Homo sapiens: one gene and its partners. The protein of the gene in region 1 interacts with the protein of each later gene in a pairwise test. Each region holds a gene or a part of one and is shown in the gene's direction. Other genes may lie near its edges.

What was found.
Region 2: the proteins of CD37 (region 1) and LYN interact in binary tests that used the Homo sapiens proteins (3 or more experiments, as listed by UniProt).
Region 3: the proteins of CD37 (region 1) and SYK interact in binary tests that used the Homo sapiens proteins (3 or more experiments, as listed by UniProt).
Region 4: the proteins of CD37 (region 1) and LRRC3B interact in binary tests that used the Homo sapiens proteins (3 or more experiments, as listed by UniProt).

What each region holds. Positions count from the first base shown.
Region 1 is NC_000019.10:49,331,289-49,338,407, forward strand, and holds the start of CD37 (leukocyte antigen CD37), read left to right. Parts: upstream 1-4,117; 5' UTR 4,118-4,252; coding exon 4,253-4,321; intron 4,322-4,425; coding exon 4,426-4,498; intron 4,499-5,620; coding exon 5,621-5,745; intron 5,746-5,858; coding exon 5,859-5,933; intron 5,934-6,636; coding exon 6,637-6,741; intron 6,742-7,119. Other genes in the region: SLC6A16 (orphan sodium- and chloride-dependent neurotransmitter transporter NTT5), read right to left, coding at 329-424. UniProt on the Homo sapiens protein: Structural component of specialized membrane microdomains known as tetraspanin-enriched microdomains (TERMs), which act as platforms for receptor clustering and signaling.
Region 2 is NC_000008.11:55,875,597-55,882,838, forward strand, and holds the start of LYN (tyrosine-protein kinase Lyn), read left to right. Parts: upstream 1-4,238; 5' UTR 4,239-4,507; intron 4,508-7,242. UniProt on the Homo sapiens protein: Non-receptor tyrosine-protein kinase that transmits signals from cell surface receptors and plays an important role in the regulation of innate and adaptive immune responses, hematopoiesis, responses to growth factors and cytokines, integrin signaling, but also responses to DNA damage and genotoxic agents.
Region 3 is NC_000009.12:90,874,799-90,881,824, forward strand, and holds part of SYK (tyrosine-protein kinase SYK), read left to right. Parts: coding exon 1-51; intron 52-2,772; coding exon 2,773-2,982; intron 2,983-3,965; coding exon 3,966-4,155; intron 4,156-7,026. UniProt on the Homo sapiens protein: Non-receptor tyrosine kinase which mediates signal transduction downstream of a variety of transmembrane receptors including classical immunoreceptors like the B-cell receptor (BCR).
Region 4 is NC_000003.12:26,625,751-26,632,776, forward strand, and holds part of LRRC3B (leucine-rich repeat-containing protein 3B precursor), read left to right. Parts: intron 1-7,026.

The sequences.
Region 1 (7,119 bases):
TCCCACCTCAGCCTCCTGAGTAGCTGGGACTGTAGGTACATACCACAAAGCCCAGCTAATTTTTTTGTTAATTTTTGTAGACAGGGTCTCACTATGTTGCCCAGGCTGGTCTCGAACTCCTGGGCTCATGTGATCCTCCTGCCTCAGCCTCCCAAAGTGCTGGAATTACAGGCATGAGCCACCTCACCTGGCCCATAATAATGTTTTGATATATATAGTGTATGCAGTAACAGGTATTCTATTTGTAGTTGTTAGGATGTTTAAGGTTAGCTGATTTAACAAACAACCGTAAAATCTTAGTAGCTTAATACAACAGGTTGTTACTTACATAAAGTCCAAAATGCTTTATGTAAGTCCAAGGATAATTCTCAGCTTCCTGCAGCCAGTGAGTGAAGGGAGAAAGAGTAAGGATTATGGAGGACATTTCAGGCTGAGTCTAGAAATGGGCTGTGTCCCTTCTGCACCCATTCCATTGGCCCAAGACCAGTCACATGGCCTCAACTTCACTGCAAGGAGACCTGGGAAATGAAGTCCTCCTGTGTGCCTAGGAAAGAAGAAACCAAGTTGGTGAGCATCAAAGCTGCAGTGAGCCGTGATTGCACCACTGCACTCTGCCACCTACCCTTCGACTTCTGGTTAATCATGTACTCATCTCTGAGGAGGGATCAGTGGGTGGGAAGGAGGGATTGGTGTATTAGTCTCCTATGGCTGAAATAGCAAATTACCACAGACTTACTACTTAGAACAACAGAAATGTATTCTCACATGGTTCTGTAGGCCAGAAGTCCAAAATCAAGGTGTCACCAGGGCCACACTCCCTCCAGAGGCTCTGAGAGAAAATCAGTTCTTTGCATCTTCCATCTCCTGGTGGCTCCAGGAGTTCCTTGGCTTGTGGCTGTAGAACTCCAATTTCTGTGTCTACCATCACATGGTGCTCTCCTCTTCTGTGTCTTCTCCTCTGTGTGTTTCTTAGAAGGACACTTGTCAGCCGGGTGCGGTGGCTCACGCCTGTAATCCCAGAACTTTGGGAAGCTGAAGTGGGTGGATCACGAGGTCAGGAATTCAAGACCAGCCTGGCCAAGATGGTGAAACCCCATCTCTACTAAAAATACTAAAATCAGCTGGGTGTGCTGGCAGGCGCCTGCCTGTAATCACATTTACTCGGGAGGCTGAGGCAGAGAATTGCTTGAACCTGGGAGGCGGAGGTTGCAGTGAGCCGAGATCACACCACAGCACTCCAGCCTGGGTGACAGAGCGAGGCTCTGTCTCAAAAACAAAAACAAAAAACAGACACTTGTCATCAGATTTAGGGGTCACACAGATAATGCAGTATCTTGAGATCCTGAATGTAATTATACCCGCAAAACCCTTTTTTCCAAATAAGGTCACCACAAGTTCTGGGGATTAGGACATAGACATATCTTTTTGGAGAACGCCATGCAACCCACTATAATCAGCTATAATTATTTTTGTAGAAAATGATGGGAACCTGACTTAGGATGGTGGCCTTGGAAAGAAGTGGCTGGGTTTGCAATGTACTTTAATGGTAGAGCAGAGAGGCGTTGGTGGTGGTTAGAAACAGAAGCTGAGGGGCTGGGCGCAGTGGCTTACACCTGTAATGTCAGCACTTTGGGAGGCCAAGGCAGTTGGATCACTTGAGGTCAGGAGTTCAACACCAGCCTGGCCAACATGGTGAAACCCTGTCTGTACTAAAAATACAAAAATTAGTCAGGTATGGTGGTGCATGCCTGTAATCCCAGCTACTCTGGAGGCTGAGACAGGAGAATTGCTTGAACGCAGGAGGCAGAGGTTGCAGTGAGCCATAATCGTGCCACTGCACTCCAGCCTGGTCAACAGAGTGAGACTCCATCTCAAAACAAACAAACAACAACAACAACAAAAACCTGGGTGTGGTGGCTCATGCCTGTAATCCCAGCACTTGGGGAGGCCGAGGTGAGCGGATCACTTGAGGTCAGGAGTTCGAGGTCAGCCTGGCCAACATGGTGAAACCCCGTCTCTACCAAAAATACAAAAATTAGCCGGGCGTAGTGGGTCATGCCTGTAATCCCAGCTACTTGGGAGAATGAGGCAGGAGAATCGCTTGAACCCAGGAGGCGGAGGTTGCAGTCAGCTGATTGCACCACTGTACTCCAGCCTGGGCGAAGAGTGAGACTCTGTCTCAACAACCACCAAAAAAATAAAAGCTGAGGGATGAGGCAGGTGGTGACTCAGCGTTTGGATACAGAACTGTGTGGCTCAGGACTGGGTTTCAAAAAGACCCCTCTGGGGCTATGTGGGGGACAGACTGGAGGGAGAAACTAGAAGCCAGGGAGAAGCCTAAAGTCAGGGTCCAGGTAGGAGAGCAGGAGCCCAGAGCCTGCCTGAGCCCTCAGGACAGAGAAGAGGGGTGGAGTGGAGACTCAGCAGGCAGGAGGGATCTGGCTAAGAGACTGATGCGCTGTTGGGGAAGAGGGGACAAGATGGAGCTTTGACCTCATGACTAGATAGATGGTGGGGCTGCCTCAGATGAGGAAACCAGGTGAGAGAATTTGGGGACATCAGAGGAAACTGCAGAGGCCACTGGGTGTGCACCTGCAACCAGGCACTGCAGACCCAGATCTGACTGTCAGGATCCCAGGCTCAGTGCCTCCTCCTCTGGGGCCTCCGCTCCTCGGGCCCCACTGCAGAGGCAGGAAGTACCGCCTGATGCTCAGCTTCCGCTGGGGGTGTTGGCACGGCCCAGCGCCCTCCCCACTCCCAGGGACCTTCCCACCTCGAGCCTGTAGCACTTTCACTTCCCCAGGTACCCAGCCCCTGCCCCCAGCACCTGGGTGCTCCCTGGTCCAGAACAGGCTGCAGACTCTGAGAGGCACAAAAACAAGTGGGGAAGGGGGAGACAGAGAAAAGAAGACAGGCTGGGCACAGTGGCTCACGCCCATAATCCCAGCACTTTAGGAGGCCAAGGCAGGAGGATCACTTGAGCCCAGAAATTTGAGACCAGCCTAGGCAACACAGTGAGACTCCCATCTCTACAAAAAATGAAGAAAATTAGCCAGGCATGGTGGTGTGCACCTGTAGTCCCAGCTACTTGGGAGGCTGAGGTGCAAGGATTGCTCGAGCCTGGGAAGGTTGGGGCTGCAGTGAGCTATGATCGCACTACTGCATTCCAGCCTGGGCGACCCTGTCTCAAAAACAAAAACAAAAGAGAGATGAAGAGAGAAAGGAGGAAGGACCCAAAGAAGGGGCCAGAAGCAGAGAGAGGCCAGGCACAGTGGCTCACGCCTGTAATCCCAACACTTTGGGAGGCCAAGGCAGGAGGGTCGCTTGAGTCCAGGAGTTCCAGACCAGCCTGGGCAACCTAGTGAGACCCTATCTCTGTTTTTTTTTAATTAAATATAAAAAATACAACACTCCCACTCCATAGCAAGACCCCATTTCTACAAAAAATACAAAAATTAGCCAGGCATGGTAGTGTGCACCTGTAATCCCAGCTACTCAGAAGGCAGAGGTGGGAGGATAGCTTGAGCCCAGGCTACAGTGAGCTGTTTTCCCCACCGTACTCCAGCCTGGGTGAAAAGTGAGACCCTGTCTCAAAAAGAAACAAATATATAAATAAAATAAAGAAACACAGAGAGAGGGAGGATAGAGACCCCAGGAGGCAGGAGGACAGAGACCCAGAGGAGGGAGAGACTCTGCTGAGATAAGGGGACAGAGATGGGGAGTAGCAGGAAGGTGGGGACAAAGACCCAGAGAGGAGGAACAAGAGACCCAGGGCAGGAAATGGGAGACACAGCTGGATGCAGAGATGGGAGAGCTTAGCAGGCCATGAGGTCAGAGTGTCTGTGAGGTCAGCTGCTGTCCAGGGTCAGCCCTGAGGTCCCCATGCCCAGAGGTGGGTTCCAGTAGATCAGGGGTCCCTTTAGATCCCCCAGCGCCTGAGACATGGAGACCTGGGAGGGACTGCCCCATGAGTCCTTGGTGCCCACAAATTCCAAGGCCCCTCAGGTACCAGAGCATGTGTCCCAGTGGAGCAGGTGAGGGAGACAGGGACAGAGAGAGAGACAGAAAGCCACCTTACATGAAGCGGGAGTGGGTGGAGCCCCACCCCTGGAACTTCCTCTTTTGGGGTTCTTCCTTTCTCTCTCAGCTCTCCGTCTCTCTTTCTCTCTCAGCCTCTTTCTTTCTCCCTGTCTCCCCCACTGTCAGCACCTCTTCTGTGTGGTGAGTGGACCGCTTACCCCACTAGGTGAAGATGTCAGCCCAGGAGAGCTGCCTCAGCCTCATCAAGTACTTCCTCTTCGTTTTCAACCTCTTCTTCTTCGTGAGTTGCCTCATGGCTACCCAGCCGGGGCCCAGCCCCTGCCGCTAACCCAGCCCTCATCTTCCCCTGTGGCCCACCCCCGTATCCGCATCTCCTCTCCCCAGGTCCTCGGCAGCCTGATCTTCTGCTTCGGCATCTGGATCCTCATTGACAAGACCAGCTTCGTGTCCTTTGTGGGTGAGGGGGGCTGGGGCAGGTGGGAGGGCCTCCCCCAACCCAAGCAACTTCCTGGGGTCTCCCTTGTCTCAGGGAGACCTACGGTGCCCTACTCTGCAGGCAGGCTACAGGCTCCCATCCACTGCTCACCGGAGGCTTCTTGGAGCCTGAGTCTTCTTCCGGCAAATGGGGTTGTGCATACAAACAACAATGATCATGAGAGCCATTTCTCAAGCACTTCCTATCTGTCGGGACTTGTGGCTGGTCAGATGCCCCCACAAACCTTCCCCTCGCTTGAGGTTCAGAGAGGGGAAGCCCCTTGATGGATGTCATACAGCAAGGACGTAAAAGAGCCAAAATAACATTAATAATAGGAAAATAATAATGAAGTATGACCCTAAATAATAATGAAATATAACCCTAAACGCTCATATTTAAGAAGTCTTTGCCCTGTGTTGAGGACTGGGTTGAACACATGTCCTCATGTGTCTCTCAAAATGACCCTAGGGGCCGGGCGCGGTGGCTCACACCTGTAATTCCAGCACTTTGGGAAGCCGAGGCAGGTGGATCACTTGAGGTCAGGAGTTCGAGAATAGCCTGGCCAACATGGTGAAACCCTGTCTCTACTCAAAAATACAAAACGTTAGCCAGGCATGGTGGCACATGCCTGTAGTCGCAGCTACTAGGGAGGCTGAGGCAGGAGAATCACTTGAACCTGGGAGGCAGAGGTTGCAGTGAGCCGAGATCACATCACTGCACTCCAGCCTGGGGGACAGAGCGAGGCTCCAACTCAAAAAAAAACCCTAAGAAATAGATATCATCTCCTATGCCTCAGGGAGGTTTAAGGAGCCAAGCCAATGTCACAGAACAAGTGATAGGGCTGAAACTACTGGGGACGAGGAGGAGCTGAAGGAGGAAGGAGAGGGTAAGAGGAAGAGAGACAGAGATCCAGGGACGGGAAACAGGCCCAGAAAGAAGAGAAAGTTTCAGAAGGAAACAGGGACTCAGGGTGGGGCAGGGACAGAGTCCCAGAGAGAGGGGCACCAAGATACTGCTCCCCACTTGGGTGGCTGCCTAGGTGGGAAATGGGGCTGCCTGGAGCTGTGCCACACAGCTCATCATCACTCCCCTCACCTCTCCCAGGCTTGGCCTTCGTGCCTCTGCAGATCTGGTCCAAAGTCCTGGCCATCTCAGGAATCTTCACCATGGGCATCGCCCTCCTGGGTTGTGTGGGGGCCCTCAAGGAGCTCCGCTGCCTCCTGGGCCTGGTGAGTGCACCATCCCTCTCCGTCCCTAGGAACACTCCTATCCCCACCCTCAAAAATGGCCTGGGCCGGGGTTGCAGGGGTGGTCAGCCTGATCTCTCCACTCTGCTCCCCAGTATTTTGGGATGCTGCTGCTCCTGTTTGCCACACAGATCACCCTGGGAATCCTCATCTCCACTCAGCGGGCCCAGGTGAGCTTCCTGCAGTGGCCACCACCCACCCCCAGCAGGGAGGAGAGGGAAGGGAGTGGTGGGAGAGGGTGGAGAGAGACCGAAACAAGGGCAGACAGGGGCTAACCTAGATAAAGAGAAATAAGAGGCTGGGCCTGGTGGCTCACGCCTGTAATCCCATAATCCCAGCACTTTGGGAGGCTGAGGTGGGAGTCCAGGAGTTTGAGACCAGCCTGGGCAACATAGTGAGACCCCATCTATATTTAAAAAAAAAATCCGGGTGTGATGGTGTGCACCTGGGGTCCCAGCTACTTGGGAGGTCGAGGTGGGAGGATCACTTGAGCCAGGGAGTTTGAGGCTACAGTGAGCCATGCACTCAGCCTGGGTGACAGAGTGAGACCCTGTCTCAAAAAATAAATTAATAGAAAGACACACCGACCTGGACCAAGGGAGACAGGCATAAACAGCTCCAAAGGGAAACACACGGGAAAAAGAGAGAACAAGAGAAAGAAATAGACGCCCTGAAAGAAGAGACAGAGACTTATGAGCCGTAGAAATAGTGGAAGAAACAGAAAGACAGACCTGAAGTACACAGAGCTAGCCATTCAGTAAGGATTTGAGACTGGCCCAGAGATGCACAGGGCCCGCCTGAGGCTGGCACAGCCTGAGAGGGGGAGGGGTGGGGCGGGGAAGATAAGGCCCAGCCTCACTGGTGGCCTCTCAGCTGGAGCGAAGCTTGCGGGACGTCGTAGAGAAAACCATCCAAAAGTACGGCACCAACCCCGAGGAGACCGCGGCCGAGGAGAGCTGGGACTATGTGCAGTTCCAGGTAAGCCCCCCTCCTCCAGTTCCCTCCCGGACTGACCCGCCTCAGCCCTGTGCTTGGAGGAGACTCCACCCCAACGTGGGCCCGACCCCCAGCTCTACGATCCTAACACACCCCAATCCCTCCCAGGCCCGACGCTCCCCACTCCCCAGATGACACAACTGTCCCCGGCGTCGCCTGGTCTCCCAGTACCCAGACCCTGGCGTGGCTTCGCCATCTACCTCGAGAGACTCCGCCCCCGCCCCCGCCCCGACCAGAGGTTGTCAGGCCCCTAGTCCCAAGACCCTAGCGAGACACGGCTTCCTACCCCGTAGTGACTCTGGCTTCCACCGGACCCCGCCCCCGATGAGACTCACATGGTCTCGCACTCCTATTCACCTG
Region 2 (7,242 bases), on another chromosome or scaffold:
CTCCCGAGTAGTTGGGACTACAGGTGCCCATCACCATGCCCGGCTAATTTTTTTTTATATTTTTAGTAGAGATGGGGTTTCACTGTGTTAGCCAGGATGGTCTCGATCTCCTGACCTCGTGATCTGCCCGCCTCGGCCTCCCAAAGTGCTGGGATTACAGGCGTGAGCCACTGTGCCTGGCCTGTAATACCGGTTAACATTGGATAAGTATTTAAGAAAAAATCTACCTTGTGGCAATTTATGTATAAATAATATTTCATATAGTTGTTAAAATTTTTTTGTAGCCTAAAATAATTCTTAGCAATTTTTGTTTTTCTTTATTAATTCCTTGTATCTATAATCACTTGTGCTAAAGTCACCCATTTTCCCCAGTAATACAGGTTTAATATTCTCAATCCTTACCACTTTACCCTCACACAGAGGCATATATCCATGCTACTTTTTTTTTTTTTTTTTTTTTTTGAGACCGAGTCTCACTCTGTTGTCCAGGCTGGAGTGCAGTGGCGTGATCTTGGCTCACTGCAACCTCCACCTCCTGGGTTCAAGCAATTCTCTTGCCTCAGCCTCCCGAGTAACTAGGACTACAGGTGTGAGCCACCACACCCAGCTAATTTTTGTATTTTTAGTAGAGACAGGGTTTCACCATGTTGGCCAGGCTGGTCTCAAACTCCTGATCTCAGGTGATCCACCCACGTCAGCCTCCCAAAGTGCTGGGATTATAGGTTTGAGCCACTGCCCCTGGCCACATGCTACTCTCTTAAAGACAGAGGACCTGGGGGCATGAGGGCTTGAGGAAGGTGGACGTTGTTCAGAGAGGTGAGCTCCAGGCTAGGGGAGGGCGGAGCACACTCCACCAGTGGTTCCCAAACTTGGCTGCTCATTGGAACCACCTGGCAAGGTTTTCAGTCTCTGATAATTGGGGTTCCCCTCACCATCCCCATCCCCCAAAGACTTTGATTTAACTGGTCTAGGTAGGGCCTGGGCATGGAGATATTTTAGCAGCTCAGGTGATTCTAATGTGCCCCCAGGGTTGAGCACCACTACTCTGTATTATTTGCTACTTGGTAGTTAGGTCTGTGGCCAAGTTGGCAAGAGTTAGGTGGAAGAATACTAGAAGAGGCAGCAGGGGCAGCCCACACAGTGGCAGTGGGATGGGTTGCAGCACAGATGATTTGGTGGACCAACATGAACAGGTGAGCAGCATGACCAATCCTGGCCTCAAGCACCATGACCACGCATGAGATGATGATGGCGGTGCTAATGAAGAAGTTCCTAGAGGTCAGATATTTCATTTTCCCACAGTGGATGATGGGATGCTCTTGTATGCTGCGTCCCATTATTTGTGGTAGTTATGTTCTATAGTCACTGTGAACACTGAATTAGCGAATACCGAGTCACTGCTTCTTAGGTTCCTGTGAGTCTCTGGACACAACATTTTCATTACATTATGATTAATACATAACCTTATATGGTGTGTGTTTCTGTTTAATGGACACCTTATTTAATATATGGCTGATTCATTACATTGAGTTCACAACCAATAGCACAGTAGCTCCTGCCTGCAGGACGGTTCTCCAGTGGGCACGCCACAGCCTCTGGTGCTTAGCAACAACAGACAGCACTTTAGCAAGCTCTACGCTTCGGGCCATTTATTTTTATTTTTATTTTTTTTAATTTTTTTATTGTGGGGGGGGTCTCACGATATTGCCTAGGATGGTCTTGAACTCCTGAGCTCGAGCAATCCTCCCACCTCGGCCTCCCAAAGTGCTGGGATTACAGGCATGAGCCACTGAGCTCAGTCGCTTGGGGGCCATTTTAAACAGCAAAATCACCAACAAAAAGCACAGAAGTGTGGAAAGCATAAACTAAATGGACAGCAAAAAGAATACAAGAAGGCAGAGCATCGCCTTGTTCCACTATAGCTGGGAGGGTGTGCGTGGGGCAACTCAAGATTTTTACTGCTCTGGGATGTGCATATCTATGAGTGACTGGGAAAACACCTCAAGTATTGATTTTGAGATTACAAATACATTTTAGCAAGTAGATAAGTTCACAAATATGATATCTGCAAAAATGAGGATACACTGTACATAACGTATTTACAATACCGCCTTCTCTTGCCCCGCCCATCGTATTCCTTCCTTTCTTCAAAGGCCCATCTATCCTGTCAAGGAGCCTTAATTGATTTGCACCCTGCCTCTGATCACTGCCTTCTGTGCTCAATTTAGAGAAAACTGGTGAGATAAATCAGTCATCAATCAATTAACCAATCAATCAATACTAATGAACTATTTTAAAGCACCCAACATAATTTCTGGGAGGTAGAGTGGGGAATAGATAAATATAAAAGGCAGTGCCTTCCCAAAAGGAGTTTACCAGTAGTTGAGGAGACAAGCCTAACATGGGCAAACAATGCTAAAAAGTACCTAGGTCTAGTTTAAAATAATGTTGCACACCATACATGCTACAGATGCTTTAAAAAGTTGCCTATCAATAGGAGCTTTAAATAAAACTTTCCTGAGAAATAGAACTTTCATGGGACATTAAGAAGGAAAGACAGATATGGAGAATGATTGAATGAAGTATTCAGCAAGTATAAATGCAGCCTAAGAAGTGGAAATTAGCATCGTATCGTTTTTTTCCAAATAAGAATGAAGAGATGAACTTAGTGAGGACAATTTTGTGAGGAGTTAGGGAGTTGGGGATCTGGTTGCAAGCTCAGGTAAGCCTGATGATGCTTTGTTCCTTACCCTGAGAGACATTTTACCAAAAACACTGACAGACATTCCTGATAGATTAACCAATACCAAACGTTTTTGAATCCTATTCTTATTTGCCACACACGTTTAGTCAGGATCTCAAGGATTCATCAGTAGCAGCAGAAACTTTAATGTAGGGTTAATATATTTGAGAGGTCATTCTTAAGAAAAGTCTAGGCAATAGGCCCTCAGGTAGTGAATTATTCTGTAGGATTCATTGTTTTTTGTTTCATTTTGTTTTGTTTTGTTCTTTTTTCATTTTTCTATTTTTCTCCATAGGATTCTTGATAGGTTTCAATCACACACCTTCCCATGGGTATTTCCATGGGCAACCCACCCCTTCTCTTCAGCAGTAAACTAACAACTACATACCAGTGAACATCACAGGTATAAACCACCTTTCTTCTTTTAAGGAATTAGTATGCAAACTTTAGTACTCTTTTCCTAGTAACAAATAACTGCTGTATCAGATTGTGTCACAAGGCAGCTGCTTTGACTTATTGCTCTGTAGCTGGGGTCAGCCTCTTCAGAACATTGTTAATGAGAGAAAGGAAGTGCTTTGGGCAGTGTCTGGCCCATCAGGCCCTCTGTAAATGTTTGCTATTAATGCAATGCTGAGATCCCAGTGAACAGAATCTGGCTTAGAAGAAGTGGGTATCCACGGTGCCCGAGCCTAATCTTACATCTTGGATTTGTAAGTGGCATTTATTGAGTTGAACATGAGCTTGAGCACGCGGTCACACATTCTTTCAGCAAACACTGGTTAGGCACCAGCTGCTACGTGCAAGCACTGCCCTACATGCTGGGACGCAGCTGTAGTAGGAATGAAATAACGCCAGCATTCCTGCATGCGGGCAGTGCGGGCCCTGTACAGAAAGGTACACGAGATAGGCATCCTCACATCCATTGTCCTGGGAGGAAACTGAGGCTTTGAGAAACGGAGAACTTGCCGGGCCATTTGACTCTACGTCATCCCCTCCCCCATCAATGCCCTGAACAGCCTCCTGTACACCCTTAAGGAACTTACTTTGTAATGATTATTAAGAACTCAGCGAGACCCCGAGCATCACCTCGGCATATCGCATCCTTTCTCTAGAGAACCCCTAATGTTGGAAGGGATCAGAGCGCACCTCCTCCGCTCCTGGGAGCACCCCCTTCCTAATAATACCTTGGGGATGGGTCGGAAGGAAAGGAAAGGAGACGCGAGAGGTGTAGTCGATGTGCCTGCGAAGCCCAGGCTCCTCTGGAGATCCTTCCGTCCGTCCCTACAGGAGAAGGCTGGCCCGGGCTGCTCCACTCCCCGGAGCTGCAGACTGAGTCGCCAGGTTTCTGTGCCTTCAAAGCCCTGCGCGACGGCCACACCAAACACCCAAACCTTGGGCAGGGACCAAACGGTCACTTCCCCGCCCTCCGGGCTCAATATGCAAATCCGAGCACCAGGAAGTAGCTGGGACCTCTCGGCCGAGCCCAGAGACAGCCAGTTCCTCTCCCGCCGCGCCGGGCCGCGCTGCCGCTCGCTCCCCGGCCGTGGCGCCTCCGGGCCAGACGCGCTGCAGCCTCCAGCCCGCGGCAAGCGGGGCGGCCGCGCCACCCCCGGCCCCGCGCCAGCAGCCCCTCGCCGCGCGTCCAGCGTTCCCGGCCAGCAGCCTCCCCATACGCAGGTCCTGCTGGGCCGCCCCGTCGCGCCCCCCACTCTGAACTCAAGTCACCGTGGAGCTCCGCCGCCCCGAAACTTTCACCGCGAGCGGGTGAGTCCTCTGCGCGAGCCCAGGGGTGGGCGCGGGCACGCGGGCAGTGGGTGCAGGGGCCGCGGCTGTGCCACCAGCCGGAGTCCCGGGCGCAGGGTAGACTCGGGGCCGGGGGCATCGGCGCGGCCCGCGGCGGCTTCCTGGCCGCACCGCCTCTGGGCTCCGGCGGCGAAGGCTCTTAGATGTCTTCAGCCGACGGGTGACCGGGCCCGGGGGAGCCAGGGCGCGGGGACTGAGGCTCCGCAGGTGTCCGCCGCGGAGCCGCGCAGGGGAGCGGTGGGAGGTGCGGGCGCGGGGGCGGGCTCACCGCGTGTCCTTCCCGGTGAGGGCCCGAGGGCCGGCTGCTGTCCCTGCTCCGGCCGCTTCTCGCACACAGTGGGGAAGCCGCTGCCCTTGCGGAGCGGGCGCGCGGCGGGGATACTGGAGAGGACTCCTCGGATTGTGCAATCTGATCTCCCCTCTGGACCCTGGGTCTCCTGGCAGTGGGAGATGGGGCTCGGCCGGCGCCCTCTCGAGGCCCGCGGACAGTTGCCCTCCCTGGTGGCCCCGGGCAGGAGCGTGACGTCGAGGGGCTGCAGCGGAGGCTGGAACTCACCCTCCCGCTGCGGCGCCTCTCGGCCTGCCGAGGAGCAGTCCGGTGCTTTTGCCGGCTGAGAGGAAGCGAGAGTTATTTTAAGAATTCAGGGGTTGCCTTTCCTTCGCCTTGGGGGAAGGGCGTAAGAGTCAGTTCCCACTTTCCTGCATTCTCTGGGCCCATGGTGGCATCTTTTGCTTGCGGTGCATTCGTAACTTTCCAACAGCCTGCCTGTCATGTGGATTAGCGGTTGTGTTTTTGTATATCCGAGTGTGTTAATTATCCCAAATTCGCCCTTCTTCGCCAGCTCAGAATCTAGGCCTTGCACTTTTCTGGCTGTATATTTAGGGGACCGATTATTGAAATTCCCTGTTTGAGTTTCTTCATCTTTGAGAGAGCATATATACCTCAGGGGCTGTTTAGTACACACAAAGCCCCTAGTACGTACCAAGCATTTCATAAACGATGTTACTGTTATTTATTGCAGTGAATTCTATTCATATAAATGAGGCTTCTTGGTTCTTTGCAGCTTGGTGATGTTGAAGCTAAGACTACCATGTCAGATTTAGCCATCTGACCTTATTAGTAAATCTGCTTAATAAATACATGAGGGATTTGCTGTCCCAAAGCAGGGCCCAGTAGTCTGACTTTCCCTAAAGAACTAGCCAATAAACTGGTGGGCTACAGGGATGTTTTCTCTGTACAGCCAACACCTAAAGCCATGCCCTGGGGAATAGGCACTGCAAGAACCCAGGCCTTACTAAGCCCTTCTCTGTAAGAGTAAGCTTTGTTGGGAAAGGGTGGGATCCAGTTAGTCCCTCCATTCTCATTTGGAGGTAAGCAGGTAAGCGCTTTGAGGCCTGAATAAATTTCACTGGATCATAGAGTCTTTGGTGACTGGGCCTCTTTGGATGTAAATGTGTGGCCCTTTTGCTGAGTGAAGGATAGAGGGCAGCAGATGTAAGGGGAGAGAAAGTAGGAGCCAGGAACCTTGAGTTTTGGCCTCTTCCATCATTTAATATGCTGTGATTTGGGATAAGCCACTTGGGCCATTTATTCAGCCAAGATTTCCTTTATAGCAGCAGCCAGAGTTATATTGATTTGTCTGCAGGTTGATAGTCTGTATTAACCATTACAGTGGAAGCTCCATGAAAACTGCTTCATCTGTCTTGTCCAAAATGATAGCCCCAGTGCCTGGTACATAGTAGGTGCTCAGTTCGAGATTACTTGGAAGAAGGAATGAAGGCCTCCTGTGAGCTTGCCCTATGCAAAACTGAGGACATAGGGAGATGAAGAAATAGAGCTGGTCCCTAAGGTGTTTGAAGCCTACTGGCCCTTTCTGTTGTGGTTTCTAAAACGGGGATTTGAGAGGCTTTGTTGACTGTAAAGTTACCCAGCACTGAGTTACCCACATTTAGTGTGGGTAACTAAATGAGAGTCTCCACTCAGCACCGCTCTTCTCTACTTATTACTGGAAGAGAGGTCCTGATGTGGGGTGGTTAAGATGTTTCCTGCAAAGGTAGTTGGCCCAATCCAGAAGACCTACATTATTTTAGAGTCATTGGTGTTACAAAGGTAGGTCGAAACTTTGTAATCCCGCCCCTGCCCTCCAATAGCTTTCTTTTAGCAGAAAAGTGGTCCAGCACTGTTCAATGACTTTGAAAGCCTTTTACTTCTATCTGCAATATTTGTTTTTAGATAAATCACCAAAAACATCTGAGATTCCAGTTGGTTCACATGACTATGTGGAGTTGTAACTTAACAAAATTAAATCATATTATTCATGTACAAACCCATACTAACTTTATAAATAAGGACACCATGTATACATGCCCACAGCAGGGAACATTGTTATAAGCTCACTCCTACTGATGATCTCAGTGATGCATGGATGAGTGTTAACATTGAAAGGCCACCACAATCATTAGTCAGGACATTGATCAATGTCACATTGATAGCAGAGATAGCCTCAGACCTTTACTGGCTCTTCCTAGTGATGATGGTGAAGGTGTTAGCACCTTTCATTTGTTCAGGGCTCTGAAGTCTTCCTGAACTCTAATTTCATTTGAACCTCTTGTGGCTCCTATAGGATGGAGAGGGACAGATACAGAAAAAGATTCAGGGGGTTGTCTAAGGTCACAGGCTTGGTTAAGCGGTACCA
Region 3 (7,026 bases), on another chromosome or scaffold:
GGGCTCTGGTAATTTTGGAACTGTGAAAAAGGGCTACTACCAAATGAAAAAGTAAGTTGCTATGTTCCACCAGCCTCACCCTCACATGAGCTCAGGTTCTAGACATGACTGAGAATAACAAAATGTAACCTGGCATGACTAAACCCTTTTTTTATTAATGCTACCATTCTTGTTAATTTCTGGTACTATTATAATGAAAGCGTCCATTACCTTTAATGGCAAAAACTGCAATTACTTTTGCACCAACCTAATAGTACATGCACCTTATGGAAAATTAGGAAATAGAAACAAGCAGAAACATAAGAAAATAAAAACATCAAATTGGCATGGTGGCTCATGCCTGTAATCTTAGCAATTTGGGAGGCTGGGATAGGAGGATTGTTTGAGGCCTGGAGCTTGAGACCAGCCTGGGCAACATAGCAAGACCCTGTCTCTACAAAAAAAATAAATAAATAAATAAATAAATAAAACATAAAAAATTAGCCAGACATAGTAGTGCACACATATACTTCCAGCTGCTCAAGAGGCCAAGAAGCCAAGGCTGCAGTGAGCCATGATTGCACCACTGCACTCTAGCCTGGGTAACAAAGCAAGGCCCTGTTTCAAAAAACAAAACAAAAAAAAGAAAAGAAGAACATCATATTTGTATAATACCATCCCAACACTACTACTGTTAACTAAACATTACTACTGTTAACTTAATCTTATTGTATATATTTTTAGATCTTTATTTGTACACACAGATATTATTTAATTAAAACAAAATCATTCCATTATAACAATAGTTTTTACATTTATTTTCTTTAATTTTATAGTTACATCTCATTTTTCTTACATGAAAATTATTGATTCCAAATATGATTAGTATAATTATTTATTGGCTTTATCCTATGATTTCAGATAACAATACATATTATACAACAGTTAAAATTGCTAAATTTCGAAAATATCTTTGTATTTCTTTTGGTCTTTAGAAGGTACCCAACATAGAATGTACAAGTAAAACTACTGGTTTCTAAAGTCCTTTGAAATACACCCTCTGTTTGAATTGGTATGATACTAATATGAATGTGGTTAGATTTAGTAGCTTCATGGTATTTCAAATGTAAGGGATTTTTGTAAAAAAAAAATTCGTGAGTAGGTAATTTTTATGATTCAAGGGTTAAAAATATAGACAAAAATATACACAGACATGCGTGCTTTCCGGCCGGGTGCCGTGGCTCATGCCTATAATCCCAGCACTTTGGGAGGCCAAGGTAGGTGGATCACCTGAGGTCTGGAGTTCAAGACCATCCTGGCCAACATGGTAAAACCTCGTCTCCACTAAAAATACAAAAAATTAGCTGGGTGTGGTGGCATACACCTGTAGTCCCAACTACTTAGGAGGCTGAGGCAGGAGAATCACTTGAACCTGGGAGGAAGAGGTTGCAGCCAGCCAAGATCACACCATTGCACTCCAGCCTGGGCAACAAGAGTGAAACTCTGCCTCAAAAAAAAAAAAAAAAAAAGAAAGAAAGAAAAAAGAAATGCTTGCTTTCCAATCTGTCCCTTCGATTTGTTTTTGTGCATGTGTGTGTGTGTAAATTAGATACACATACATGTATGTATACACACACAAACATACACACATATGTATACATTCACAAGTATATACATGCGCACATATATACACACACAATCAAAATTGGCTGTGATACTTATTTTAAAATATATGTTTGTATATCACAGTCATTTTGTACAATGAGTAAAAATGTTTCTGTATTAATCCTAAGCTTTTTCAGATTATGAAAGGTTGTGATCTTTATTCTGTGCTTAAATTTGTGAATTAACATAGACATGACTGTGGACATAATTTCAACTAGAGAATTTGGGGAGAGGAGAGGCTCTCTCGGTCAATTTGGGGCAAAATGATGTCTTTACAATACTGAGTCTTTCAATCTATAAACACAGCCCATCTCTCCATTTACCAGGTCTTCTTCAGCCTCTCTCAGGAGAGTTGTTTACCTTTTCAATGTATTACATTGAAATATATGCTTTTAAATTCTGCACCTAGAAATTCACTTTCAACAATTATGAAAGGCATTTTATATTCACATTCATTACATGTAATCTGAGATGGTGAATCCCAAGATGTTACAGGAATTCGTACATGTCATCGTTGGTGAAGTTTATTTACAAGTTATTTAAATATTTTACAGTTTAGGGTTTTTGCTTGGTTGGGACATTCTTCAGTACTGTTCTTCACCATTCTTTTTATTTTATATTATTTTTTAGAAACAGTGTTTCACTGTGTCACCCAGGCTGGAGTGAAGTGGCAAGAAGCTCACTGCAGCCTTGAACTCCTGAGTCCAAGTGATTCTCCCACCTCAGCCTCCCGAGCAGCTGGGACTACAGGCTTGCACTGTCACACCTGGGTGATTTTTTTTAGAGATGGGGGTCTCACTATGTTGCCCAGGCTGACCTTGAACTTCTGACCTCAAGCAATCCTCCCCTTTCAACCTCCCAAAGTATGGGGATTGTCAGCATGAGCCACCATGCCCAGCCCCCACCATTCTTTTTTAGTAATGGAGTATTACTCTCATTGTCTATAAAATAAGGGAATATAGGTTGGAAGGCCAGCCATCCATTACAGGCTTCTGAAGACACATTGCCACTCTGTGGCAGGTATTTCCGTGGGACTGTTTCCACAGGGGGATTATGCTTCACAGGATAAGATTATCTAGAAGTGAGGCATTTTGGAAAGTTTCTTGTGTGTTATGATTTCTCTTGCAGAGTTGTGAAAACCGTGGCTGTGAAAATACTGAAAAACGAGGCCAATGACCCCGCTCTTAAAGATGAGTTATTAGCAGAAGCAAATGTCATGCAGCAGCTGGACAACCCGTACATCGTGCGGATGATCGGGATATGCGAGGCCGAGTCCTGGATGCTGGTTATGGAGATGGCAGAACTTGGTCCCCTCAATAAGTATTTGCAGCAGAACAGGTATTGTCAGGTGCCCCCACACATCTGGAAGCTATCCCCTAAGGGACAGGGCCCACCCCTGGATGGGCCGAGCAGCCTGATTTCCTTGGGAAGCCTTCCCACCCTCCTGTGCCTTCCTTTATTGGTCCATACTCAGGGACCTTGACAGAGGGACAGGGAGACATAGTCTTTGGATTCAGCTCTGTTAGCTCTAGTTGTTCAGAGAAGAACTCATTTGACAGTTTTGTCTTTTTTTTCTTCCTGTAGTCATTCAGTCTTGGCCTAGTGATAGACTCAGCCTCAGAATATCTTGACATGGAATCTCCTTTCTCACTGGGAAGAACACTTTCTTTTTAAAGAAACATTTTAAATAAATGCTTTTCTAAGAGGTGACAGTTAAGTCTTATCTGTTTGGCTGACCTTATGTTCTCATGAGTGATGACTTCTGAAAATACCAATCACTGCTAATTGATTACATCCATCAAGGGAGTAATTGTGTTCTTCTCATCTAAAGCTGTTGTTGAGATGAAGAAACTCACTTGGAGTAAGACAGAATGATGGCCACCGAGGAGCTTGCCTCATTTGCTGTGCTACGTTTGTACTTAGATTGTCTCTTTAGTCTCCATGGAAGGGAGGTGTTCTTACCCTGACTTTGTAGGTGAGAAACTGATTCTCAGGGTTAGTTCTGTGACCTGTGTGATACTGGAACAAGGATTTGAGGTGGTGCCTGGCTATCTGTGAGCCAGGCCTGACTACTCTGTTATACTGCTTTTCTTGCAATTCCAAGCATGCCAGGAAACTCAATCCCATTGAACACCAGGAGAATATGGCATTGAGTCCTGAAGAGCTATATGCTAACAAAGTTATTTGTCACCACTCGTGAGTTTTGTTGTTTAAGAAGAGGGAAGGAGTAGATTCACCCACTGCCTGCGTGAGGAGCATGGTTGTTTGTTGTGAAATGGGTCACTGTCTGTTATAGCTGATGAGATCATTATGACTTTCAGACATGTCAAGGATAAGAACATCATAGAACTGGTTCATCAGGTTTCCATGGGCATGAAGTACTTGGAGGAGAGCAATTTTGTGCACAGAGATCTGGCTGCAAGAAATGTGTTGCTAGTTACCCAACATTACGCCAAGATCAGTGATTTCGGACTTTCCAAAGCACTGCGTGCTGATGAAAACTACTACAAGGTAAGTACAACTTAGCTAATATTCAGAGCAGCAGGTGGTAAAAAATGCAAGATAAATGTACGTTTTCTTTATTTTATTATTGGTATGGTTTCAAAAAGCAGTTTTGCTACTGAAAAATAACTATGTAAGATATGTTCTTATAATCTTTGATTTTACTGTTTAAAAAATAAAAATAATATCACACCTTGAGATTTACTCAAAGTAGTATATTCTAAATTATGTTTCATGGAATGATCAGGAATCGAGGTATTAAGTGAAGATTTGTTTTGAAAAAAGAAGAATGGGATTCCTTCATTAAGTTAATTTGAAAAGTTTGCATTGGACAGCTTGATTCTTGCAGGATTTCCCCGAAGCCCTTTTCATGCTACTTAACATTACGAATCTCAGTAGAGGGTTTACTGCACTGCATTTCTCAAACCAGATTCATCCATGGCATCCTTTTCTGATAGGACATTTCATAACATGTGGTGGAACACTGTCCCACAGCATGGAGCTATTGGAGCTTGGAGCTCCAGTACTGCAGTTCAGAGCTCCAATATTGCAGCTTGGAGCTATTCCAAAATAACTTTCTAATGAACACCTACCTATACATGCAAAAGTTAGAAAGTGAAGATTTACCAAATAAACTCGTCATCTGTGTATGTCCACTACATATGTAGAAATTGTTCTATTGGCTTAACTGGTATCCAGAAGAGTTGAAGTGTCAAAAAATAGATGCAGTGCTGGAAAGAAGAGATCTAGATAGTTATGTGACTGAAGCTAAAAGAAATATGCCCCTTGGTTTGGTGAGGCAGAGATTATCAAGAATTAAGGGTGGACTTCCAGCAAAACATAAAGTAGAAACTAGTTCTGGGTGCAGGTTTGGACTTCCTAAAAAATAATTTCACAGTGACCAATCCCCTTGCTAATATAACTTGACCCCTCTCTGAACCCTCAAATGAACCAATAACAACTAAAAGAAGAAAAGATAAGAAAGCTCTATCTTCATATTAACTCATCTGTGGTGTATACCTAGGGTCTATGTTAACCAACTGGAAAACGTGATGGCACCAATCCCACTGAGTCAAAGAGGGTGCCGAAGGCAGGTTAACAACCCTGCTAGTCTCTGGTGAAGTCCACATGCTCAGAAATAGATGGCAGACCTTCAAAATCTACCTAGTGGGTGGCAGATAGGATCCTGTGTTTCATGCCCTGCAGTGGTCAGAGACCCCACCCTGAGTGACAATACCCACCCACTCACCTTTCCCTAAGAGGCAGTCCATGGACTGGTAGGTGATGGGGAATGGTGGACCTCGGCCAGCAAAGGGACTGCATGAAGGGTAAGCCACAAGAGCCAAGCTCCCAGGCAGGCAGGCAGACTCCACCATCTTGAGCACAAAGGCCAGGCGAGAGTACAGCAGGGGTCAGGCTGGCCCTCCTCACCCCATTCTTCATACAGTAGCTTCCCAGAAGGAAGCCCCTTCAGAGGTGAACCACTGTGAGAAAGGCATCAGCATGGGCCTGGATAGAAATAGCAGGGAAACAGAGCAAGGAAGACAGCAGCCTAGGATGACCAGCATGGGACATGCTGGAGAAAGAAGCCTGTTGTAATGCTGGATGTACCTCATCATGATCATTACAGAAAAGAAGACAGCCTGTCTGAAACAAGGACACAGAGGAGATAGAGAAAATGAAACATGAATGCTGGGCACCTTATCCACTGCTGTATAACAAATCACCCCAAACTTACTGCCAAAAACACCACCAGGTGTTGGTTTCCCTGCCGTCCTGCTGTGTGGGCAGGGCCAGGTAGGCAGGGTTCAGTGCGTCTGCTCACACAGGGGATTGCACAGTGGCCCGAGGGACAGGAGGACCGTTTCCACTCTGCTCACTCACACTACTCAGCCACTGAGCAGCTGGTTAGACACAGCCCATGCTGGAGACCTCTGCGGGGCTGTCAGCCAGCTCACCTGCACATGGCCTCTCCTTGGGGCCCTTGGGCTTCCCTTGGGCCCATGCTTCCCTTGGGCAGCATGGCAGCTGCGGGCTGAGAGCAGTTACCCAAGAGGCAGGAAGTGGGGGCTGCCAGGCCTATAAAACCAGGCCCAGAAACTACCTCAGGGTCACTTCCACCTGATCCTATTGGTCAGAGCAGCCAAGGCCACCAGCTTCAAAGGATGGGATAGATAGAACCACCCTTTTGAGGAGAAGTGTCAAAGAGTCAAAGAACATGGGGCCAATTCTAAAACTGCTGTAGATATTAAACAGCATACCATTAAAAAGTAAACTAAACTAAAAAGTAAACCAAAGATTGTCTTTGGACAATCAATGAAGAAAAAAAGCCACTAGGGAAATAAAAGCCATCTTGGAAGCAGCAAAAAGAGACAAAACTACCGAAAAGATAGGGTAGTGGAAGATTTCTGTATGAAAACAAAGCAAAGTGAAATGGAAAAGAATAAAAAGTGGGCCGGGCGTGGTGGCTCACGCCTGTAATCCCAGCACTTTGGGAGGCTGAGGTGGGTGGATTACCTGAGGTCAGGAGTTCGAGACCAGCCTGGCCAACATGGTGAAATCCCGTCTCTACTAAAAACACAAAAATTAGCCAGGCATGGTGGCAGGCACCTGTAATCCCAGCTACTCTGGTGGCTGAGGCAGGAGAATTGCTTGAGCCCGGGAGGTGGAGGTTGCAGTGAGCTGAGATCGTGCCACTGCACTCTAGCCTGGCCAACAGAGCAAGACTCTGTCTCAAAAAAAAAAAGGAATAAAAAGTGAAACAAGATCAAAGAAAAGTGCTAGCTGTGGAAGCAAACGAACGCTGGCACTCGGGAAACCATGCGTGACAGGGTAGATTTGTGCAGCATCACAACTGAAAAACACAGGTGTTCTTTGATC
Region 4 (7,026 bases), on another chromosome or scaffold:
TCAGTGCTAGCTAGCAGTTGTGGAGTTCTTACTATGTGCCAGACACTATCTTTGATGTTGTGTGTGTTTGTGTTAGATTTAACCCTCACAACAACCCTGAAAAATGGGTAGAGTTATTTATCTCATGTTATAGATGGAGAAACCCAGTATTGAAGAATTCAAGTTATTTGCTTATTGACATTCAGCCAGGAAATGGTGGGGCTGAGTGGTCTGGTGATCAGAGAACACTGAGTGTGTCCCATACTCCCAGCCCTATTTGGTACTAAAAACCATTTGTCTGGAAGGAAGCATGAGTGAGGCCCCTCACCCTTTACTCCAAACTGCAGCGGCGTACTATAAGTGCCAGTCCTGGCCTGTGAGCCCCTGTGACTAGAGTATTAGGGAGACTGATGTTACATATCGCCTGTCTCAAAGTTTGTTGGGGTACACCTTGGTATAGTGGAATACTAGTAGAGGAAATCGATTTGGAGAACTGGCTACTGGTAATGGACTTCTCTTCTGAACCTTTTGTAGACATTCCCTTTTTAAATAGGAAGGTAAATGGAAGGAGGGATCCAAATATGAACAGAGATTTGCTCTGTAGTCAAAAACTAGAGGCAGTTTTATGTAGCAGTTGTATTCTGCAAATGAAAGCCTCTCTCTGAATTGAGTCACATAATTAGTTAGAGCTAAGAGGGATCTCAGATATTATCCCACCCAATCCAGACTCAGGGAGGAGATTCAATGCTGAGCTCAAGGCCATTTGGTGCATTTGTAGCATAACTAATGCTGGAACCACTGCCTTTTGACCCTTGCTCAAATATGGTACCATTATACATAAATAAATTATGCTCACTCCTGCTGTTTTTTTAACATCTTAAAATTAATTAGGAAAAGGCTTTTTATTTTTAAAAAGACTGTTTTGCTTATTTTCGTATAAATGCTTCTCAATCAGCATAACCAGAAAAACTCTATATCATATATAATGAATAAGCTACCACAAATGTGACTCTTTTTGCAAAAATAAAACATTGCAGAATATTTGTAAGCCTTCAAATCAACAAAAATTAACTATGCAAACCTCTGGATGATTCTAAATAAGATTAAATGATTTCTAATGATTTTAGCAGTCTTCTGTTAGATTGAGTTGCTTCATCCTTCTGCACTCCCAGGTATTTGTGAAAATAACAGGGAATTTTTCCTATCACAGGAAACATTCTTTTGAATACAGTGGCATAAATTCTTGGATTTCTCCTGGATTCTTGACTTTTCATTAAAGTTTATGCTGATGTAAAGCTGAGGCAAAACAATATATTTCTGTACTTGGGGCTCAGAAAGAGGAAAAATAGTTCTTTGTCACTTCCGATAATATTTGCCACTTCCTCGCCTACCTGGCCCCTTCAACAAAGGGGACTTTCTGCAGTCACTTGAGGATTTCATATACCTTTAAGCGTTTTTGTGGGACAAAGTTCTAGTTTCCAAGAACACCTCATGTCTTTTCTCTGTAGCTGTAGTACCAGGATGTCCTCCCCTTGGAGACAAACCAACAAAAAGTCAGCCAGGGTAAACAGGGAGGAGGGATAGAAGAATCCTGTTTTTCAGAATCAGATCAGCGGGGCAAGAGTCATAGACAGATAGTGGAAACCTGGTGCCTTTTAGGTCACCTGGAATAGGATTTCCATCTCTAATGCTGTGGCACACTAGGACCTAGGCCATCCTATAGTGAGGACCTAGGCCATCCTATAGTGGAGGAAGAAAAGAAGAGAGTGAGGCAACAATATTGTCAGAGGAGGGATGAGGTGGAGGAAGATGGAGGTGAGGCTTGGCTGCTGAGGCACCCAAGTGTGACCAAAATGCCCACAGAGAGCCAACGTGCACTAAGAGCTGCTCCTCCTCTTCCTTTTTTTCCTACCCTCGACCTCAGTCTGCGTTTTGTGTCAGGTTGACTGTTCTGAATCCCCAAGACCCCAGTTATCTCAAGGAGAAGCATTCATTTTCCGGAGAATTCATTAGAAGTCAATTTTGTTTTTATGCAAGTAGGAAAAACTTGCACAGCTGCCCCACTCTTCAGGAAGAGCCATTCAAAACCAGATCATCCAGAAGGGTGACCTTCTGGAGGTGGGGATACCGGCTTAGTTGAGTTGCAGCAGTGTTAAAGAAAAGAGACATAACACTGAAGTTAAGTGTGACAATATCCAAAAGAAATGGTCTATGTCCTAGGAACCACAGGAAGGGGAATCCTTTGGAACCTGGGCAGACATTCTGGTTTCCAATTCCCAGTTTATTCAGGGGAGCTCTATCCTCATCTTACTTATGTGGTCCAATCCCCTCTACTTATTTTACTGTGGCTGCTAGGTGGTGCAATATCAAAAGTCCCACATGACACGTCTGCTGGGGAGATTCTTTGGGGTGTACCTTTATCTTAAATCATATAAATATGAGTTCATTGACATTTAGAATAACAATTATTATTAAGCAATATGCTCTAAGACAAAGGATATGGAAAAATAAAAACTTTTATTCAGAACACAATGAATAGATATGTTTATACAATACATAGTATGAGTTAAAAGTCTTGGGTAAGATATTTGAAAAAAAATAATCAAGATTCGGAATATCTGATCTTGATTAATTTTAATAGCAAGAGAAGCTAAATAATAAGGTTCTGTAGAAAGAGTTTGAAGAAGATACTGGAAAAAAAAAAAAAAAAGCTCAGAGTAGGACCTGAGAAGCTTTACCCTTATTGATTTTATTTAAAAAAATATAAAATATCTTAATCTATATTTAGATTTGAATAATCCATAAGATTAATAAATTTTGTATTCATTTTATTATCTGAAGATTGTGACTTTGATGAACTTTATTTGATAAATGGTTTGGAGCCATGATGGAAGCTCTGAGATGTTAGTATATATCTACATATACTTTATAAAAACTTAGTGAATTAATACATCTCAACATGATAATGACATATGAAATGGCCATTTCATATGAGAATGAAATCTGGAATCTTCTCAAAAGCTGATAGGCTTGAACATACTATTTCTCCACCACAGGTGGTAAGTTAATAGTAAGGGCCATTTAGTTCTTTCAAAATAGATAAATGAGTAAATACTAAAAAAAAAAAAAAAAAATCCTCCACAAATAAAAACAGATTTTATTCTTTAGGAGGATAAATGAACAGATTAGGAAAGGTTATGAAATTTACAGTTTCATTTGATCCTAAGCTCTCTAAGCTACCTTTTATGTTAATACTTGTCCAGTGCAAATGTCACTACCTTTTCAGACAGTTTAAAAAATGCTTTAGGTGCCTTTTATTAGAAATAAAATGGAAACAAATATTATTTAAAAATGTGAAGCTATTCTCAACCATGGAGTAATATTTGACAAAGTGGTAAGTATGTTTTCAAATACAGATTAGTTTCCTTTTATTCTCTTTTCCTCCTCTACCCCTCCCCCTCCCTCCCTGCGTCCTTCCTTCCTTCCCTCCCTCACTCCCTCCCACTCTTCCTCCCTTCCTTCCTTTCTTCCTTTCTTCCCTTCTTCCTTCCAATTTTAGGTCATTGATAGAAGAAGTATTCAGTAACTTACTGGGAGAGACTGCTATAATATTTCAGGACAAATACGTCCTCTGGCGAGGACAGTGCTGAAGGCACAGTGCATAGTTCTCTAAAGCTAAAGCACAAAGGTCATGAGGTCTCATGGCTTTCCCCTGAGTCTTCTAACCTGAGCTCTGATTTGGAGAAATAATCATTGTATAGGCCTGCTACAGAGGGCTCCCCCTGTTAGCGGTGACTAAGCAGTATGCTTTCCCTATGCTGCACTGGGAATTTATACACTGAGAAGAGTCCTGGTCCAGGCTGCTGATCTTCTCTAGATGTCTGGCCATCAGGGATTATTAAGTGGAATACTTTTCACCCTTTCCACAATTATATTTAAGCTTAGGGTTTCAAAGTTTTTATTTTCCTGCTGCTATGTGTTGTGTGGTTTTTTATTGGGGTGGCTAGTTTGTTATTTTAACTGTGGCTCAGAAACAGTGTCTGTTAGTAAACTGAAAATGATTCCCAAAGGGAAGATGTACTGTGGACTGTTGATACCCAATGTTTCTGCTACAAAACCTGTGAAAGGGGTATGGTGTGTGGCCAGCCAAGTCAGGAGGGCCAAGCAATTGGCAGCAGACAACAGCAGAGAAAGGTGGGAAAGGTGGGGGCAGGAGAGAAAGAGGTGTAAGAGAAGCATGGCAAAAAAAAAAAAAAAAAAAATCTATCCAAAGGAAGAGAACCCAATACTTAGCACAGTAAGACTAAGAGATATCTGATAGTAAACCTAAACCAAAGGATAAGGGGAAAAAAAAATCCCATAAGAATAAGAGAAGACAAAAAAAAGAGAATGGGAGTAATAAAGACTGAAAGAAGAGGGCTTATAAGGAAGAGGAATGTACTAAATAATACCTCATAGCATAGATCAGTTCAAAGGCAGCCTAGCTCCCCAGCCAGAGGGCAAGGTCTCTTTCTCACATATCAGAGTGCCACATTAATGTGGCTTTATCAATCTCCAGGCCAAGGTCTTCTACTCTGATTTACTCCATAGTGCCCTTTGACAGTCTGACAAAGCCTGCGGGCCCTGGAATGGTGTTTAAATGCATAAAATATAATACATAAGATTATAGCACAAACCAATTTTATTGAAATATCTGTTTATCGACTTATAAAAGAAACCACTGTTACTAATATATGTGCCTCTTACATAATAATGCCTCTATAACAAGATCTTGTAGTGGGACTAGTGGCTACTATTGTTTCGAAGTAGGAATGGGCATAAATGCTACTATGAGATAACTGTGGCAGCTGTATTGTGATATGAAAATATTTATATTGGTGACATAATCACTAGTATGGCTACTATTGAGGTTTATGGCCTGTGTTCAAATGGGAATGAGATGGTACATTGCCATTTAAGCTTCACAAACAAAGTTGCGACTTTTTTTTCCATGCAAGTTCATGGATGCCTTGAATTCTATTGGTGGATGCCTTGAATTCTATTGGTAGATGCCTTGGAGGTCTCTAACCCCAAGAACTGCAGACAATGGTAACCATAAAATTTATCATTTCCCACTGGGACACTTTGGAGAATGAAAGGGCTCTCAGTTGTTTTTCCAAGACAGTAGGTATAAATCAGGACAGGCCCGGGCAAATGGTAATACAGCTGCTTTAGCTCTCTGGGATCTTCTAGCTGTGTTAGCACTTTGGGATCTTCCTCCCCAGACCAGTTTTCACTTCTCTGGCTCAGGGAATTGGCTTTTTCTGCTCTGTTCTTAGGGATCAAGACTGTGGATACTGGTATTGGAAAGTAGAGAAGACCTTCAGCTGGAAAAGGATCCTTTATCAGGGCCACAACCAAGATATGGGATGCCTTTGTGAGAAATGAAAAATGTGCCTCCTTGGAGAAGCAATAGCCTCCTGGATCCTGGCCCGATGAACATTCGCTTGTGTTTTAGCTCCCAGTGGCCCCCTTGGCTAGGTTCACTGTAGCCTTGGCCAATATCACCTGAAATGAGGGTGAATTATCAGACTACATTGCATTTCAGCCAAAAGTTTCAACTTCCCCTCCAACAATTTCTCTTAAGTAGACTTGCCAAAATAGTTTTTAAAGATTCACTTCGTTTCCCTTCCCACTTCCCAGTTATCAGGAAATGGCTTTGGCACAGGCAGGTAGATGGAGAACCATGGGAAAAGGTCAGGATCTGAAGAATTTTTAAAGTAGATAATAAGGCCCTAAGTGATAAAGAGGGAACTGTGGTCATGGAGTGTTTCCTAAACAGATGGCTCATGTTATCCAGTGTTGGGAGAAGATAACAGAATGTCCCTGTCTTGGAAATTAGCATGTTTTTGTTTGTTCTATTTGATGAAATAGAACCTGCTTAGTAGAAGAAGAAAACTCTTCTAAGAAAGGCTTTGACCTTGTAGGGGTGGCAACATCTCAGAAAATGCCCTCTTTTTGTGCACATAGACTATTTGGGAACCAGGCAACCTAGTTCTAGTTCCAGCTTTGACTCTAACCATCTCTGTGGCACTGGGCTGGTTACATCAAATGTTCTGGGCTCTACTTCCCCCGTAAGAGGGAAATTAGGAGTTAAATGGTTTCTAAAATCCCTTTCAGTTATATGGGTTTATAATGTCAAGGATGTGTCTGACATTGTTTTATTTTTACTCCATATGATGTCTTCTCTGTTTAAGTTGACTCAGACTCATTTCTTTGCTTAGGGCTTCCAGCCCTTATATGTTACAGATCCAACAATGATAGATGGACACTCTGCAGTCCTGAGGGTCTGTTACATCTGGAGCACTTCTGGGAGCCTACAATAAAAGGATGAGGGGGAGTGACACAAAAAGAGCAATAGCTGACTGGTAAAGGGACAAGGTACAAAGGGGTGAAACAATTAATAACTTTTCTTGCAGCAATAATTGCCATGCGGGCAAGATGTTGGAAGATGAAGAAGGTTCCTAAGATTTTGACTATGTGCCCATCTTGTGTCCAACTCTTTATAACCATATGATCATATTACTCTCTGCTAAAAACCTTTAAATCACTCCTGCTTGCATATAAGAGGATTACATCCTTAGTATGGCTTAATAGATCCTTGTTTAGCAATGGGCAGGTCTATGCAAACCTATCTCAAAGTTCAAGGAAGCTGAGAGGCTGAAGAAAGAGGCTGACAAATCTAGTTTATCAGAAAGAAACCTATAATTGGGACTTCTGAACAGAAGCCATATCTGTATCTCGGGCGATGGCGAGACAAGATGGTGGATCCCCGAGCCGTTACCCCCTAGACCCAGGGTTTATATATGGTAGGAAAGGGGTGATTCAGAAAGGATTTGTAGAACTATTGAAGTAGGGTAACATCAAGTTTGTTTGACCTAAGGGCAGGATTTATAGTAAGTAAGTACCTGTTCTTACACAAGGAACATTAGATAAGTGGGAAATCTTAGAGGCCTTCCAGGAACTGAAGTTAATCAGAAGTCAACATGGTGGATTAGCATCCAAGAT